Linked DNA regions of Homo sapiens: region 2 is linked to region 1. A link means that fine-mapping ties the variant in region 1 to the expression of a gene that starts in the linked region. Tissue or cell type: whole blood. Region 1 holds a variant in brackets; the other region holds the start of a gene. All regions are shown on one strand. Distances are between the middles of the regions.

The links. PIP is the estimated chance that this variant, and not a neighbour inherited with it, causes the effect.
Region 2: HSPA4 starts here. The variant in region 1 is fine-mapped to the expression of HSPA4 in whole blood (INTERVAL, PIP above 0.99). The same link has a PIP of 0.9 or more in neutrophils.

Annotation. Positions count from the first base shown.
Region 1 is chr5:133,105,049-133,113,152 of GRCh38, forward strand. It overlaps HSPA4 (heat shock protein family A (Hsp70) member 4), which reads left to right. Exons shown (of 19, transcript NM_002154.4): 19 at 1-1,401. It overlaps LOC105379178 (a long non-coding RNA gene), which reads right to left. Exons shown (of 3, transcript XR_948792.2): 3 at 6,020-6,467. Among named protein-coding and RNA genes, the nearest start is that of HSPA4, 57 kb to the left of the region's middle. RefSeq lists an enhancer at 3,469-3,518. The variant G/A (reference allele first, on the strand shown) is at 3,388.
Region 2 is chr5:133,047,637-133,055,722 of GRCh38, forward strand. HSPA4 (heat shock protein family A (Hsp70) member 4) reads left to right here and starts at 4,377. Exons shown (of 19, transcript NM_002154.4): 1 at 4,377-4,721. The coding sequence starts at 4,615. RefSeq lists enhancers at 3,664-4,626, 3,813-3,862, 3,933-3,982, 4,173-4,352, 5,591-6,553.

The DNA of each region.
Region 1 (8,104 bases):
ACCCCCTTGCCTAGAGTAAGTTGTTAACTGAGGGCTTTAAACCTGGAGGCTCTTCCTGAAAGTATGTTCATGAATACCCCAAGCATCAAGGTCTAAATAATTTTCAGAAGATTAGAATTGGGTAGATATACTGTTGGATATAGCCATGGTAAATTTAACTGAGGAATTAAATCCTTGTTAATTTTGGTGTAAAGATTTGTATCCTGGCCTGTTTATTCAGGTGGGAGATGTTCTGTATAATTTTGAGGTATAGCTTGAACTCCTAGAACAAGAGTTAAAAGTTCTTTTTAGCTCATTCACAATCACTTGTGTGTTAAGTGTTAATATCTGTCATGAACCTGCCAATTTGTACGTGTTAAGCAGCTGACAGATGATGCAAAAAAAACTAAGATACACTGGATTGTACTGGATGAGTCTGAAATTAGTGTTAAAGAAGTGTGGTGCCTGATGTTATAACAACACCTCATTCTTAACTGTGTGGCCAATGTCAGGTATACCAAAGCATTCCTCTGACTGCTTTTTGGGGCAGTGTTGACAGGAGTGAGGCATTTTGGAAACTCCAAGGGAAGCCTGTGTTTGAGGCCAGAGTTGGTACCTGCTTTAAGAAACTGTTACAGGGCTTGTTGGTAATGTTTTGAATCTTTGTAAAAATTGATATTCTGTATAACAGAGTGCCTCTCTGTTACTTTTGGCCTATGTTGTTAGAAATAAGATGCTATCTTGCATAGTTAGAATTAAGCGTTTGTCCATCTCTAGATAACATTGAAAAGTTTGAGTGTTACAGGCTCTAAAGTGCAATGGAGAACAATTGCTTAGGAGGAGGAAGGGGAAAGTATACTTATGTTGGTGTGTAAGCATGCATGGAGGCCTCGAGGCACCACAACAAGGCCAGGTTCTTAGCACATCCTCTGTTCTCTACCTGTCATGCTTCAAGAGTTCCAGCTGGCCTGCTGTGAAGCCAGTAGCTATTTTAAAAGTGCTGGCTGCAGGATTAAGCCAACCCTTTACAACTGGCCCAGACCGTAATGGCCATTTCTTCTTAAAAAAAAAAAAATTTTTTTTTTTTTTTTTTTTTTTTTTTTTTTTTTTTTTGGTGTGTGTGTGTGTGTGTGTGGGGAAGGGTGTGGGTGCTGGGATGGGGGTGAATTTCAAGTTGAAACACGATGATGTGGTCTGCTTGCTCTCTGCTTAGACAGGCTTTAAGACCAATTGGATTTTCATGGAGGCCAGGACAGAGAGTGGTAATTGATGGCTTGTGTACAGACAAGCATTTATCCAGGTTGCGTTATCCAAACTGATTTGTTAAAGCTCCAGGTCACGTTCTTACACTAAGAAAATCATTCAGTAAACATGAGACAAGTTTAGGAAAAACTAATAAAATAAACCTGTCTTAAACTTGAATGGTTTCCTTAATTCCATAATGAAGGCTGCTGGGTGTGTGTGTGGGGGTGTGTGTGTATGTGTGTGTGTCTGTGTGTATGTGTGTGTGGGGTGGGGGCGGGGGGTGTGTTTTCAATAAAAATGTTCTCTAGGAGTAGGAACCCTCTGAGCTAAATTTCACTTAACATCCGTTGAAGACTTCCAGTCTGAAGAGTGACAGCTGAAGCACACTGCCTACTTTGTGAGAAAATGTTGCCTAATTTTTCTGTACTCAAACTCTCCAGTTGAGTCTTGGCCCAGTTCCTTTGGTGTTAGGAATCCTTGTCTTGCTCCTGTGACTGGGCCTTACTTTGAGGGTTTTGTTAGCAGAAGGCGGGGGTTATGGCATAAAGGTAAGTGCTAGGACTTACACCTGGCCAAAGAACAGCGCGGTCCAGAGTGTGCTAGAATAGTTGGCGCCACTGGATGTGTGGTGTGGCTGCGTGGAATGTGTGTTGGTGTATGTATGTGGTGGTGATGGGTGTTTAAAGGGCACTAAGCCAGTGAAAAAGACCTTAACTGGATAAGGCATGGGTCTAGACGAGGAGGGGTCAGGGGTCTTGTTCCCTGGGTCATGCCCCTTGCACAGTCCTAGTCCTCTGGCTGTAGGAGCAGCTTACCTGCCAGGGCCTACCCAGGGCCTATTGTAGCCACGTGTCTGAGAAACGTGTGTCTAGTAGGTTTGGTTTCCTCCTGAGCATGTAAGTGGTTTCTGTAGGGGAATTGTTAGATGTGGTAGAAAGAGCTGAGATAGCTGGGTGTGGTGGTGTGCACCTGTGATTCCAGATACTTGGGGGGCTGAGGCAGGAGGATCACTTGAGCCCAGGTGGTCAAAGCTGCAGTGAACTGAGATTGTGCTATTGCAACTCCAGCCTGGGTGATAAAGTGATACCCTGTCTCCTTAAAAGGTGGGGGCCTGAGAGATCAGGGTTCTGTTGTGGGGCAGTGGGAGCTGCTTTGCAGGGGCACAGGGGGCCTGGGGGTTGTTGGAGGTAGTGGGACTTAGTCCACCTTTGAGGGGACAGCCAAATGAAGGGGAAAATTGCTGGTTTTGGTACCTGCAGGAAGAGGGAAGATGTAAGCATGGTTCCAGCTGAAAACCATGCTTTAGAAGTTGGGATAGTAGTTACTCTTTGTGGAGTAGTGACAACATGATGTGAGGCTTGGTGATGCTTGTTTTTTGATCTGACTTGATAGTGTACTCATGTACACTTGATCTATTTCAATAATTTTAAGTGGCTTTAACAGAAAGGTGTGTATTTTTTTTTTTTTTTTTTGAGATGGAGTCTCGCTTTGTCACCCAGGCTGCAGTGCAGTGGCGGGATCTTGGTTTACTGCAACCTCTGCCTCCCGGGTTCAAGTGATTCTTCTGCCTCAGCCTCCCGAGTAACGGACTGGAGGCGTGCGCCACCACGCACTGCTAATTTTTGTATTTTTAGTAGAGACAGGGTTTCACTGTATTGGCCAGGCTGGTCTCGAACTCCTGACCTTGTGATCTGCCCACCTTGGCCTCCCAAAGTGCCAGGATTACAGGTGTGAGCCACCATGCCTGGCCTACATTTTTACACACACAATGTAGGTTATAAAACTACATAGCCTCTCATGTTTTGAAAGAACATTAAATGGGTTTGCAATAAAAAAGCCAGAAGGATTTTCCCAGATGAAGTGGTTTTTAGGGTGGGATTGTGGGTGATTGTTTATTTTTGCTTGTTTCTGTTTTCAGAGTTTGCTACAATAAGCATTTAGGGCCAGGCATGGTGGCTCATGCCTGTAATCCCAGCCAAAGTGGGAGGATCTCTTGGGTCCAGGAGTTCAAGACCAGCCTGGGCAACATGGGGAGACAAGCCCCTACCCCCCACCGCCTCCTGTCACTAATAAAAGCATTTAGGAATTTTATAATGTTAAGAAAACTAGAAGTGTGTTTTAAGAAGAATGGCTCCAAGGTTTCAAACCTAGAATACGGGATAT[G/A]ATTGTACATGTGGAGCTTCTAGTCTTGAGTCATTGGAGATGTGGTGGGAGTTTAGATTGAGAAGTTTTCCTGGGTGGGGTTGAGACATCGAAGCTCCAGGTGGGTGTGGATGGAAGCTTTTGGGGCTGGAGTCGTGTTCCTCATTGACGGGATGAAGGCTTGTGTTGAGATGTGTTAGGAAGAGGAAGTAAAAGCTTTGAAAGAAGGAACTGCCAGAGAGGAGTTATGATGCATAAAGCATGTTGGGAGGAAGGGAGCTAGAGATGTGAGATGTGGCAGTGGCCAGCAGGGTTAGATGCTTCAGTAGGGTGGGAGCTGGGTGGGGTGAAGGGGCTTGAGGTGAGGCTGCAGGTGCTGAGTACTTGGTCAAGAAGCTTGGCCTCAGCCGCCCCGTCCGGGAGGGAGGTGGGGGGGTCGGCCCCCCGCCCGGCCAGCCGCCCCGTCCGGGAGGGAGGTGGGGGGGGTCAGCCCCCCCGCCCAGCCAGCTGCCCTGTCCGGGAGGTGAGGGGCGCCTCTGCCCGGCCGCCCCTACTGGGAAGTGAGGAGCCCCTCTGCCCGGCCAGCCGCCCCGTCCGGGAGGGAGGTGGGGGGGTCAGCCCCCCCGCCCAGCCAGCCGCCCTGTCCGGGAGGTGAGGGGCGCCTCTGCCCGGCCGCCCCTACTGGGAAGTGAGGAGCCCCTCTGCCCGGCCAGCCGCCCCGTCCGGGAGGGAGGTGGGGGGGTCAGCCCCCCCGCCCAGCCAGCCGCCCTGTCCGGGAGGTGAGGGGCGCCTCTGCCCGGCCGCCCCTACTGGGAAGTGAGGAGCCCCTCTGCCCGGCCACCACCCCGTCTGGGAGGTGTGCCCAACAGCTCATTGAGAACGGGCCAGGATGACAATGGCGGCTTTGTGGAATAGAAAGGCGGGAAAGGTGGGGAAAAGATTGAGAAATCGGATGGTTGCCGTGTCTGTGTAGAAAGAAGCAGACATGGGAGACTTTTCATTTTGTTCTGCACTAAGAAAAATTCCTCTGCCTTGGGATCCTGTTGATCTGTGACCTTACCCCCAACCCTGTGCTCTCTGAAACATGTGCTGTGTCCACTCAGGGTTAAATGGATTAAGGGCGGTGCAAGATGTGCTTTGTTAAACAGATGCTTGAAGGCAGCATGCTCGTTAAGAGTCATCACCAATCCCTAATCTCAAGTAATCAGGGACACAAACACTGCGGAAGGCCGCAGGGTCCTCTGCCTAGGAAAACCAGAGACCTTTGTTCACTTGTTTATCTGCTGACCTTCCCTCCACTATTGTCCCATGACCCTGCCAAATCCCCCTCTGTGAGAAACACCCAAGAATTATCAATAAAAAAATAAATTAAAAAAAAAAAAATAAAAAAAAAAAATAAAAAAAAAAAAGCAAAAAAAAAAAAAAAAAAAGAAGCTTGGCCTCTGAAATGAGGCATCAGTCTGCGAGAAAGGAGGTTGGGCAGTGTCCTGTGTGTAAATGGGGATGGTTCCCACCACTTACTTGAGACCATTGGGAATCTTGGAGTTGCCAGTACATTCCTTGGATGTACTTGGCTTTGGCTGGGGCAGCCCTGGGCCATGACCCTCTAACCTGGAATGCCACTGTTTTTGTGAACTGCTATTTTGAGCAGATATTGCAAGAAGTGTAGAAACTAAAGAGGTGACTTCTTAAGCATCAGTCTAGGAGGCAAATAGGGAAAATGGCCAAGTTGAGGTACAAGCAACACATCTGGAAAGATAAAGGAGGGTGTAAATTTCTGGAGGATCAGGGAAGGAAAGACCTCAGAGTATTTAAAAAAATACAGAATGCTTTCCAGATTTGCTCAATATCCATGGGCAAGTGCCAGGCTAATCCTGACCTTATTCCTCCAGTTTCAGCACACGTCATTAGGACAGGGTGAGTAGAGACTCTTTACTCTCCCTTCGTAAGTGGCATTCGCCAGCTTCAAACACAACACAGAAAAGACTACAGAAAGCTGTGTTTTTATCGGGCCTGTTCACTAGTGTGTCTGGGTTTACATCCTTCAAGGGCGAGATGGACTATTAGATTTGGAGTCCTGGATCAGTTGAGGGAGAGAAAGCACTGCAAGTACTTTATCACAAGTAAGCAGACCTTTACTCACCACATACTGGAGGTCTCCCATTTTTTTTTCTACATGAACTTTAAAATGTATTTTAAAATATCTATTATTTAAATTAGACTCAGCTAATGCTTGCAGAAGAGAAAGCTGGAAACAGATGGTCTTGGAAGACCAGTCAGTGGCCCAGCTTCCAGGATGTAAATCCCAGCAAAGGATTTCTAAGGATGAGCTGGGTCAGTATATATTCCACAAAAGGATGGTTCCAGTTATAGGGTACCTTTCAGGAGTGCCAGTGGGGAGCTTTGTAGGACCCGTGTAAGGCTGCCATGAGGAGCCGGTGAGCTGTCTGGGTTAGGAAAGTTGAAAGGGCCCATGCAGTGGTAAAGGAGGCCGCAGCATGAGTGAAGGTCTTTCCTCTGTGACTGGTCCTGTCCTTGTCTTCTACATCCCACAACTGAAGGAGGGACTCTGCCTGGGTTACAGCTGCCTCCGTGCAGCCCGGCAAGAAGCAGGGAATGGAGAAGGCGCTCAGTGAATACTTGAAGGCAGAAATGCAGTATTTTACTGTTTTCTATTATTTTCAATGAGGGGAAAAACGGTAAAACTCTTTTTGAAGTCATCAGACCTTCCATTTTTGGGGATGAGGAAAGAGTCTCACAGAACGGGTGGATGGCAGAGCCAAGAATTTTAATGCCAGCTGTTTTGAAGAGTGCTACTTTTCTGGAAAGTTGTATGGCTAGACTATGGGGCTTTTGCCTTCCAAGAAGTCGCCCTGAGTGTAGCATTAGTTGGAGTAACACTCCCTAAGAATCTGACGTTCCCCTCCGGCCAATTCTGATTTGGTCTTGTGTGAAATCGCAGTGCTTGTGTTGCCACATGGGGGCGCCATCGCTCTTCCTTTGCCGTGGTGGTTGGTTCCGTGCGTAGATCAGACTTCACTCCTTGAGGAGTCCCAGAAGTTTGGAGAACACAGACGGCCACCTCCTCTCCTTCTGGGTAGCTAAAAGCAAAATAAGTATGGTTTAACAGAGTCCTCAAGCTAGCAAGCAGGGGCTCAAGCAAGAAAGTAGGCCTTTTGCTACTAATCTCTTAGGTCCTTACCACCCAAAGTATGACATCACTGTTAAAAAGAAGAATCTTGGACTGCTCCCAGACCTCAGGTAGATCCCAGCCCAGTGCTTCTCAGTATACCTGGGGATCTTGCTAAAATGCAGATTCTGATTCAGCAGGTCAGAGTGGGGCTGAAGAGTCCATTTTTTTTCTTTTCTTTCTTTCTTTTTTTTTTTTGATGGAGTCTCACTCTGTCACCCAGGCTGGAGTGCAGTGGCGCGAGCTCAGCTCACTGCAACCTCTGCTGCCCGGGTTCAAGCGATTCTCCTGCCTCAGGCTACCAAGTAGCTGGGATTACAGGTGCCTGCCACCACGCCCGGCTAATTTTTGTAGTTTTAGTAGGGATGGGGTTTCACCATCTTGGCCAGGCTGGTCTTGAATTCCTGACCTCGTGATACACCTGCCTTGGCCTCCCAAAGGGCTGGGATTACAGGTGTGAGCCACCATGCCCGGCGAAGAGTCCATTTCTATCAAGTTCCCAGGAGATGCCTATCATGGACTGTGCTTTGACTGAGAAAGACAACCTATAGGAGCCTCAGTTCCTTCGCCTGTAAAACGGGGGTAACACCAGGCCTGTCCGGCATGTGAGATGATGCATGCGGAAGGCACTGAAGACAGGAAGAACAAAGGTATTGCTCACAACAGGTGTGCAACTTGCCCTTTAAAGTGCAGAGTAGCTGACCCAGACATAAGTAGTCCGAGTTACCATAGCCTCCTGGCCTTTCTTGTCCTTACCCCACCAGGAGCCCAGGCTCCAGAGGAACAAGGTAGAAAGTCAACCTAAGAACCAAAGATGTACCGCCCTCCCGTGTGACATGGTCATAGTCCCCGGATGGGGAGGGAGTGCTGCTTCCTGCCCCTGGGGTGACACGTGAATCCATCCCACCTGGATGGAGGAACGGAGGTCCCTCTTTCCTTTTGACTTGAGCCAGTCCAATGGACTCAGCCTCGTGTGATCCTATTAGTAGCTTCAGCAAGGAGCAGGAACAACACACTGACCCCTGTTCAAGGTGGAGTTCTGTAGCTGTGGGTAGAGACTCCTAGAAAGCAGCGATTTGCCTCTGAATCCTGGACATCTGCTGTAGAAAAGTGAGGAAGAGCTTCAGAATGCCTGGGCTCCGTGTGAGGCTCCTGAGGCCCAGTTTTATTTCCTTGCCTAACTTGTGGTGGAGAGGCCAAATATGCATGGCATAAAAGAGACAAGAAGGCCGGGTGTGGTGGCTCATGCTATAATCCCAGCACTTTGGGAGGCTGAGGCAGGTGGATTGCCTGAGGTCAGGGGTTTGAGACCAGCCTGGCCAACATGGTGAAACTCCGTCTCTACTAAAAATACAAAAATTACCCTGGTGTGGTGGCGGGTGCCTGTAATCCCAGCTACTTGGGAGGCTGAGGCATGAGAATTGCTTGAACCTGGGAGGCAGAGGTTGCAGTGAGCCATGATTGCACCACTGTACTCCAACCTGGGCGACAAAGCGAGACTCTGTCTCAAAAAAAAAAAAAAAGACAAGATTTCTTGGTGTATGAGGG
Region 2 (8,086 bases), 57 kb before region 1:
TCAGTGGCCTGCACTCAGCGCTGCCGACTGGTGCCTGCTGGGCTTGATGGGGGGATGAACTCCCTCTGGGCTGCTGGAGTGCCCCGGCTAGATGCCACAAAGTCCCATGGTGAGTGCCATTGAGAGGTGAAGCCGGCTGCGCTTCTGGGTCTGGTGGGGACTTGGAGAACTTTTCTGTCCAGCTAAAGGACTGTAAACGCACCAATCAGAACTCTATGTCTAGCTAAAGGTTTGTAAACGCACCAATCAGCACTCTGTGTCTAGCTGGAGGTTTGTAAATGCACCAATCTGCACTCTGTGTCTAGCTAATCAGGTAGGGTACTTGGAGAACTTTTGTGTCTAGCTAAAGGATTGTAAATGCACCAATCAGCACTCTGTGTCTAGCTAAAGGTTTGTAAAGACACCAATCAGCACTCGGTCAAAACGGACCAGTCAGCTCTCTGTAAAATGGACCAATTGGCACTCTGTAAAATGGACCAATCAGCAGGATGTGGGTGGGGCCAGATAAAGGAATAAAAGCAGGCTGCGTGCCCCCCACCTTCCCCAACAACCAGCAGCGCAACCTGGTCAGGTCCCCTTCCACACTGTGAAAGTTTTGTTCTTTTGCTCTTCACAATAGATCTTGCTGCTGCTCACTCTTTGAGACTGCGCTGCCTTTAAAAGCTATAACACTCACTGCAAAGTTCTACAGCTTCACTCCCGAAGTCAGCGTAGAACACGAACCCACCAGAAGGAAGAAACTTCAGACACGTCCGAACAGCAGAAGGAACAAACTCTGGACACACCATCTTTAAGAAATGTAACACCGCGAGGGTCTGCAGCTTCATTCTTGAAGTTAGGGAGACCAAGAACCTACCAATTCTGGACACACTGGGATTACAGGCATGAGCCACTGTGCCTGGCTAAGAGATCCTCATTTTTACAAAAAAATGAAAAAATGAGTTGTATGTGGCAGCACATGCCTGTAGTCCTAGCTACTCAGGAGGCTGAGGTGGGAGGATTGTTTGAGCCCAGGCTGCAGTGAGCTATGAACGTGACACTGCACTCCAGTCTGGGTGACAGAAAGCGATCATCTAAAAGAAGAAATAGAGAAGCAGTGTAGTTGTGAGAAAATTGTGTGACCTTGAACAAGTACCTTAACCTTATCAGGTCTCTATAAAATAGGAAAAATATCACCTACCTGATGGGCTTGCTATGACGAGTAAAGGAATTATATTGGTATCAATACAGTGTCTGGCGTAATGCTAGCATATGCTGTAGGAATGCCAGAGACATGGTAATTACCATTATTATTGAGTTATTGGAGTTTTGGTGTTTAAGAAAGGGTTGTTGCTTTGACTAAAAGCATTGCTCCACTCACTGTAAGATCAGGGAAGTCAGAAAATCACCATTATCTGAGCAGGTAGTTTCCTTGTGAAGCAAAAAATTGCAGAAGCTGCTCCAGAGCGTAGGGCAGGATTCCACTGGACACTTGTCAGGGAGAAATATGAGTCCCCAGCTGATGGAGAACCTTTTGTCTTTTGTTGGGCAGCCTATGAACACTGTATATTTAAAAACAAACACTTCTGTGATTGCTTAGGACTAAATTTAATCGTTGTATTTGAGAGTGGCATTTAACAACTTCCTGCTTTTAAAATACTTAAATACCTAAGATACTCTGCCAAATGGAAAGAATTTGTTCTCCGAACACAGTGCCTCCAACATTAAATATTCTGGACACTTCGTTGGTTCGCAACTGTGATACTTGGAAACTTGCCACGTTAGATTCTTCAGGATTCTAAAATAACCTTTTCCTGACTTCATTTATTTAAATATCCCAGAATAATCTCTTAAGCTATAAGTTTGATGATCCAGGAAACTATTTATAGGAGGATGAGTACTCTCTGTGACTGATGGTAGTTATGTTTTATTTTGAGAAGGACAAATCATTAAAAAGATTGATAGGGCTGGTGGTATTTTAAACTGAAAGCAGTACCAAGGCAAACAAGGCAGTTGAGGTATGAAGTTGGAACATAATAAGATATGGGTGTAATTTTCATCAACTTAGCTAAGACCTAGGGAGGTCTTCCAATAGAAGGAAGGCAGAAACAGGCAGTAACACAGACAGTGATCTTTTAGGTCCACTGGACACTTTAGCTTAGGCAGCTCGGGTTGTTTGCTCAGTGATTAACAACTGAGATAAACAGATGGAGACAGGACTCTGTCATAATTAAGGTCAACAGTGTGCTTGGTATTATTGATATTGCCCCTAGGTAGGAGAAAAACAGAGGAAGGAAGGTCAAGGTCAACCTAACTTAAAAAAACTTTAAAAAATTGTGGTGAAATATACATAAAATTTACCATTTTCATCATTTTTAAATGTACAAATCTGTCACTGATCATGCACATTGTTATGCAACTACCACCAGCATCTATCTCCAGAACTTTCTCATCTTCCCAAACTGAAACTCTGTATCCCTTAACTCTCCATTTCACTCTACTTGTGAAACCGCTTTTCTGTCTTTATGTAGTTTATTGTAGGTGCCTGATACAAGTGGAATCATATTAAATTTTGAATATAAAATTAAAAATTAAAAAAAATTAATTTTGATTTGTTTGGCTTTCCACTTAGCGTATTTTCAAGGTTCATTCATGCTGTAGCATTTATCAGACTTTCATTCCTTTGTCTTTTCAAAGCTGTATAATGTACTGTTACGCGTATACACTAAATTTAGAAAACTCATTCATCTGTCAATGGACATGTGGATTGTTTCCTCCTTTTAGCTACCGTGAATAAACTACTATGAACATGGGTATACAATGTACAAATATGTCCCTGCTCTCGTTTTTCCAAAGGCTGTTCCTGGCTGCCTCTACTCTTTTTATTCCCAGTACCCTTTTACAGGTAGCACCTGGTACTTGTCTTTGAAGAATTAACAGGTTTTAGTTAGGCAAAATGTGAGAACAGTGTGGCCATTTGCAAGTTTTAATGGTAATCAACCCGGGTTTGGGGTTGCTCCTATAGAGTGAAGTACCTCCGGAGGTGGCAGGAAATGCAGGTATTTAAAGGGAAGGGCATACCAGGGCAATGTAATTTCTTCTTTGCTCATTCACTTTTAAAATGGCTGAAGGGCAGGTACTCTAGCCTTGAGACCTTCAACTCATGATGTACCCTCCAGCAACGGAGAATTTCTTTTTAGTCCTTAAACTATGGTCTCTATTGCTAGTTTTCCAAACTTGAACACAGCCTTTTCCTTTTCTGGGAAGTTGTCCTAGTCTCCACCATTCTGTGCATATAGCACTCGCCATTCTGTACTGGGGTCACCTTTACTTGTTTAGCCACCCTCATGATGGGGATGATCCAGGTTTTGCAGAGGTGAAACTTATATACCATTGGGGGGCCCTACAAATACACAAAACAAATAATTAAAACGACAAATCACAACACATTACTAGAGACTTGGAGATTCAGATTCTCCTTAGATCTCTCTGGGTAATTTATTAGAAATGCTTACATAGATTTGCTTCCTAATCTCAAGCTGGCTTCCCCTCTCCACAACTCAGCAACTATCTATTCTCCCAGGAGGCCATACAAGCGAGGGGCCCTGAAGCTTAACATTTATTAACTTCATGTAAAGGTCTGAGCGGACCTTTCAGGCCAGGCAGCGTGTCACTTGCCTGTGTTCCTTGTTAGGGCCTACCACCGGGTAGGTGCTTGGAATGTGCTGTGGATTAAAGGCTTAAATCCTGCGGGCCCCTCAATCTGATCTAAGGACATGAGTGGCTTAGAGAACGGCGCAACAAGGCTAAGCGAAAGAAAACAAAGCGGTGTGGCTGGGAGTGGGCTCCTTCCCTCCGCTGGTGAGGGTGCGATCTTAGACTCTTGAGAGAACCCGACATAAAGGCCGCGTTCCAATGGCGGCCTTCTCCCCTACCGGCCAACCTGCCCCGAAAAGAGCAGAAGGCACCCTGCGGGATCTGCAGATCAGCTTGCGTCTCATTCTGGGGCACCGACACGGTGGAATGCAAGACACCCCACTACCGGAAGTTTCTTTGATGTTAAGAAAAACGGCGGAAGTAGGCCGCAGCGCTTCCTCAGTATAGTGCCTCGAGCTGGCTCGCCTACTTTCTACGGTAAAGGGAGGTGCTCCACATCTCTATGCAGCTGTGCAGCGCCGCAGGTTCCATGCGCAGGCTCGGTTGGCTAAATGCGCTTTCCAGCCATCTTTCAGCCACCCAGTCCTTTCCCAGGTTCTCGAGCCAGGACGTGACGTATTCAGACGTACTGGGGGCGGGGCCTCAAGGGGAAAAGCGCCTGAGCCGGGATATCGCGAGAACATCCCGTTCTTTCGTAGCTCTGGTGCTGCGGCTCCGCTCTCGTCGCAACGAGATCTTTCGAGATCTTCTCCGCCCCCGCTACCGGCGCCTCCTCTGCGGCCACTGAGCCGGAGCCGGCCTGAGCAGCGCTCTCGGTTGCAGTACCCACTGGAAGGACTTAGGCGCTCGCGTGGACACCGCAAGCCCCTCAGTAGCCTCGGCCCAAGAGGCCTGCTTTCCACTCGCTAGCCCCGCCGGGGGTCCGTGTCCTGTCTCGGTGGCCGGACCCGGGCCCGAGCCCGAGCAGTAGCCGGCGCCATGTCGGTGGTGGGCATAGACCTGGGCTTCCAGAGCTGCTACGTCGCTGTGGCCCGCGCCGGCGGCATCGAGACTATCGCTAATGAGTATAGCGACCGCTGCACGCCGTAAGTGTGGGCCGGGCCTGCCGCGTGCACTGGGGTTAGGAGATAATGCTTGTTCCAGTCTGGGACCCTCGCTGCTTGGGGAACGCGGGCCGAGGAGTCGCCTCCGTTCCGAGCCGAGGTCCCGGTAGGTCAGGGACCCCCAGTAGGTATTAGGACACTAGGGGCCGCGGCCCACTATGAGCGTGGGTGTGTGCTAAGCGCGAGGGCCTTTTCCCCGGTGGCCCGTCGGCCGAAGAAAGGCTTCTGGCCGGTACTCGGACCAGCGGAGGGCACGGGTAGGAACTGGAAGGACTGCAGGCCTAGGATGTAAACGGATCGCGGTCCTTTTCTTGAGGGCAGAGACCAGGCCCAGGTCGTACTGAGTCTTTTGAGTCCAACAGAAAGCTCAGAACTTTGCACACAGCAGGCGCTTAATAATAGTTGAATCGAACGGGTTCTGGGGCTTGCCAGCCGCGAGACCGTGGAGCGGTCAGCGTCCCACGTGAGTGGGGGCGGGGCAGCGCCCGGAAGAGAGCGAGCTGGAGCAGCCTCAGGCACGGGTTCCGGATGGACTCGGGGTCTTGAGATTGGGTTGGCACGGATAGGAATTTAATAAAATCGGTGCTCTTATGATAACTTTGCAATCGCTTTTGTTTTCCACATTATTTCGGGATATTGTGCTATATTGGGTCACTCTCTGTTTTGTGCGCGTTAACCCCTCAATAGGGTTGCACTTTAACGATAATGCATTCTAACCAGTGTGTTGGCCACAATTGTTAGTGGCTCAAGGGCCCGCCTTGACTTCTAGAACCCATAGTAAGTTTTGGGACCAGCATAGACACAGTTCTAAAAAATGGTGGGTCACTCAGGTCTTTCACTGGTTACAGTGTCTGCCTTTTGAATACTTGTAGATACATTTTAATCCGTTGTCGTGTTCTTAGACAAAATCTTGTAAGAAGTTCTGTATTATTTGCCATTCAGGGTCTCTCTTCTTTTTTTTTTTTTTTTTTTCTTTTTTGAGACAGACAGGGTCTCACTCTGGCTGCCCAGGCTGGAGTGCAGTGGTGCGATCTTGGTTCACTGCAGCCTCGACCTCCCTGGCTCCTGGCTCAGGTGATTCTCCCACCTCAGCCTCCTGAGTAGCTGGCGTTGCAGGCGTGCGCCACCATGCTTGGCTAATTTTATTTATTTTTAGTAGAAATCGGGTTTCACTATGTCACTCAGGATGGTCTCGAACTTCTGGACTCAAGCAGTCCTCCAGCCTCGGCCTTCTGGAGTACTGGGCTTACAGGCATGAACCACCGTGCCCTGCCCAGGGGCTCACTTGTTATTGATTGATTGAGATGGAGTCTCGCTCTGTCGCCCCAGGCTGGAGTGCAGTGGCATGCTCTCGGCTCATTGCAACCTCGGCCTCTGGGGTTCATGCGATTCTCCTGCCTCAGTCTCCTGAGGAGCTGGGATTACAGGCGCGTGCTACCATGCCCGGCTAAATTTTGTATTTTTAGTAGAGACGGGGTGTTGTCGAGTTGCCCAGGCTGGTCTCGAACTCCTGACCTCAAGTGATCCTCCCGCCTCGGCCTCCCAAAGTGCTAGGATTACAGGCGTGAGTCACGGTGCCCGGCCCCAGGGGCTCAATTCTAAGGTCCATTATTTTCACCCTCAATTTTTGTCACATTTCTTCAGCAGGTTTCAGCGAAACTAGATTGTTCAGAAGTCTCACATTTCCTTTCCACTTGTCAAATTTCCGCACCCCCCACCTCCTAACCCAGGTGCTTCCCCTGAAAACTCATCCCAGAAGCCAAAACGGTAGTTTGCTGTCCCTTTGCTGAGTTTAGTCTTGTTAACAGCCCTATTAAGGTTTATTTATTTATTTATTTATTTTGAGAAAAGGAGTCTTACTCTGTTCCCTACGCTGGAGTGCAGTGGCGTAATCTCGGCTCACTGCAGCCTCCGCCTCCTGGGTTCAAGCGATTCTCCTGCGTCAGCCTCCCGAGTAGCTGGGATTACAGGTGTGCGCCACCACGCCTGGCTAATTTTTGTCTTTTTTAGTAGAGACAGGGTTTCACCATGTTGGCCAGGGTGGGCTCGAACTCTTGACCTCAAGTGATCTGCCTGCCTCGGCTTTCCAAAGTGCTGGGTTTACAGGAGTGAGCCACCGCACCTGGCACAGCTTTATTAAGGTTTAATTCATATACTATACAATTTAACCAGATGAAGTGATCGTTTTTAGTGTAGTCACAAAACAGTGCAACCATTACTGTAATCAATTTTAGAACATTTTTATCACTCCCCCAAAGCCCTGTGCCCTTTAGCAGTTTATTTTCCCTATTTGTACTTTTTAACAATGGGTAGTCTAACTTGGCATCTCCAGGGAAGTGTATTGTGCCCTGAAGTTTTTTTTTAAGCATTAAAGTTTGTTTTTAAGCATTTTAGTATTTGAGAATATCTTTGTATCCGTGTTTTCTTGGTCTATAAAATGTCTCCCCTAAGGAACTGAAAAGGCTAAAGCGCTGAGTTAATGTATTTAGTGTTTTGGTCCTTTCCTGCCCTGTGATTGAACACGCTTTAGTTCCAAAGGGCGCACAGGAAGAGAATCCCAAGTATGGGGAAGAACAGTGTTCCTATCCTTTCTTTTAGATTATTATCACATGCTCCTGTTTTTCTTTTAGAAAGACAATAGCTACAACAATTATACCATGAATTCTATTTGAAACTGAGTTGTTGCAGATAAAAAATTTGCCTCAAAGACATTGTGATATATATGACCCCATACACCACGGAATTGTGATAAGAAAATTCCATTTAAATAATTTTCCTTACATGTTTTCTTTATATTTTCCTTCATAGTTTTCATTAACTTACAGGCATGCCATACATTTCAAGTGATTTCTGAACTGTATGATTTTGATTCACTTTGATTACTCTGTTTTGGAGTCTTGGGCTAAATAGAAAATGGTAGCAGGAAGGTTGATTTTTTTTTTTTTTTTTTTTTTTTTTTTTTTGGTAGCGGTTATGGAGGAATGGATTTGGAGCTCATATGTAAAAAAGACTGCATGTTGTGGGTTTGTTTTAACATGAGAGTGGAAATGAGATGCAAGTCTTAGAGGGTTTATGATGGTGGAAGTACCTCGTTTCAGATATGGGTGTAACAATCTGGATTAGGTTTTTGAGGAGCCAGTGGAGTCTCATCCAGAAGAGACCCTTGATTTTCCACCCAATTTAGGCTTCCTTCATTTTATCAGATGTTGAGTGCCTCTGATGTGGTAGCCATTTTTCTAAGCACTGGAGGTACTGTGGTGAACAAATAAGGTCATGCCATTATGGACATGGCTGGTGGATTAAACCAAATACTAAACAAAAATATGTAGTAATTACTAACTGTGGTA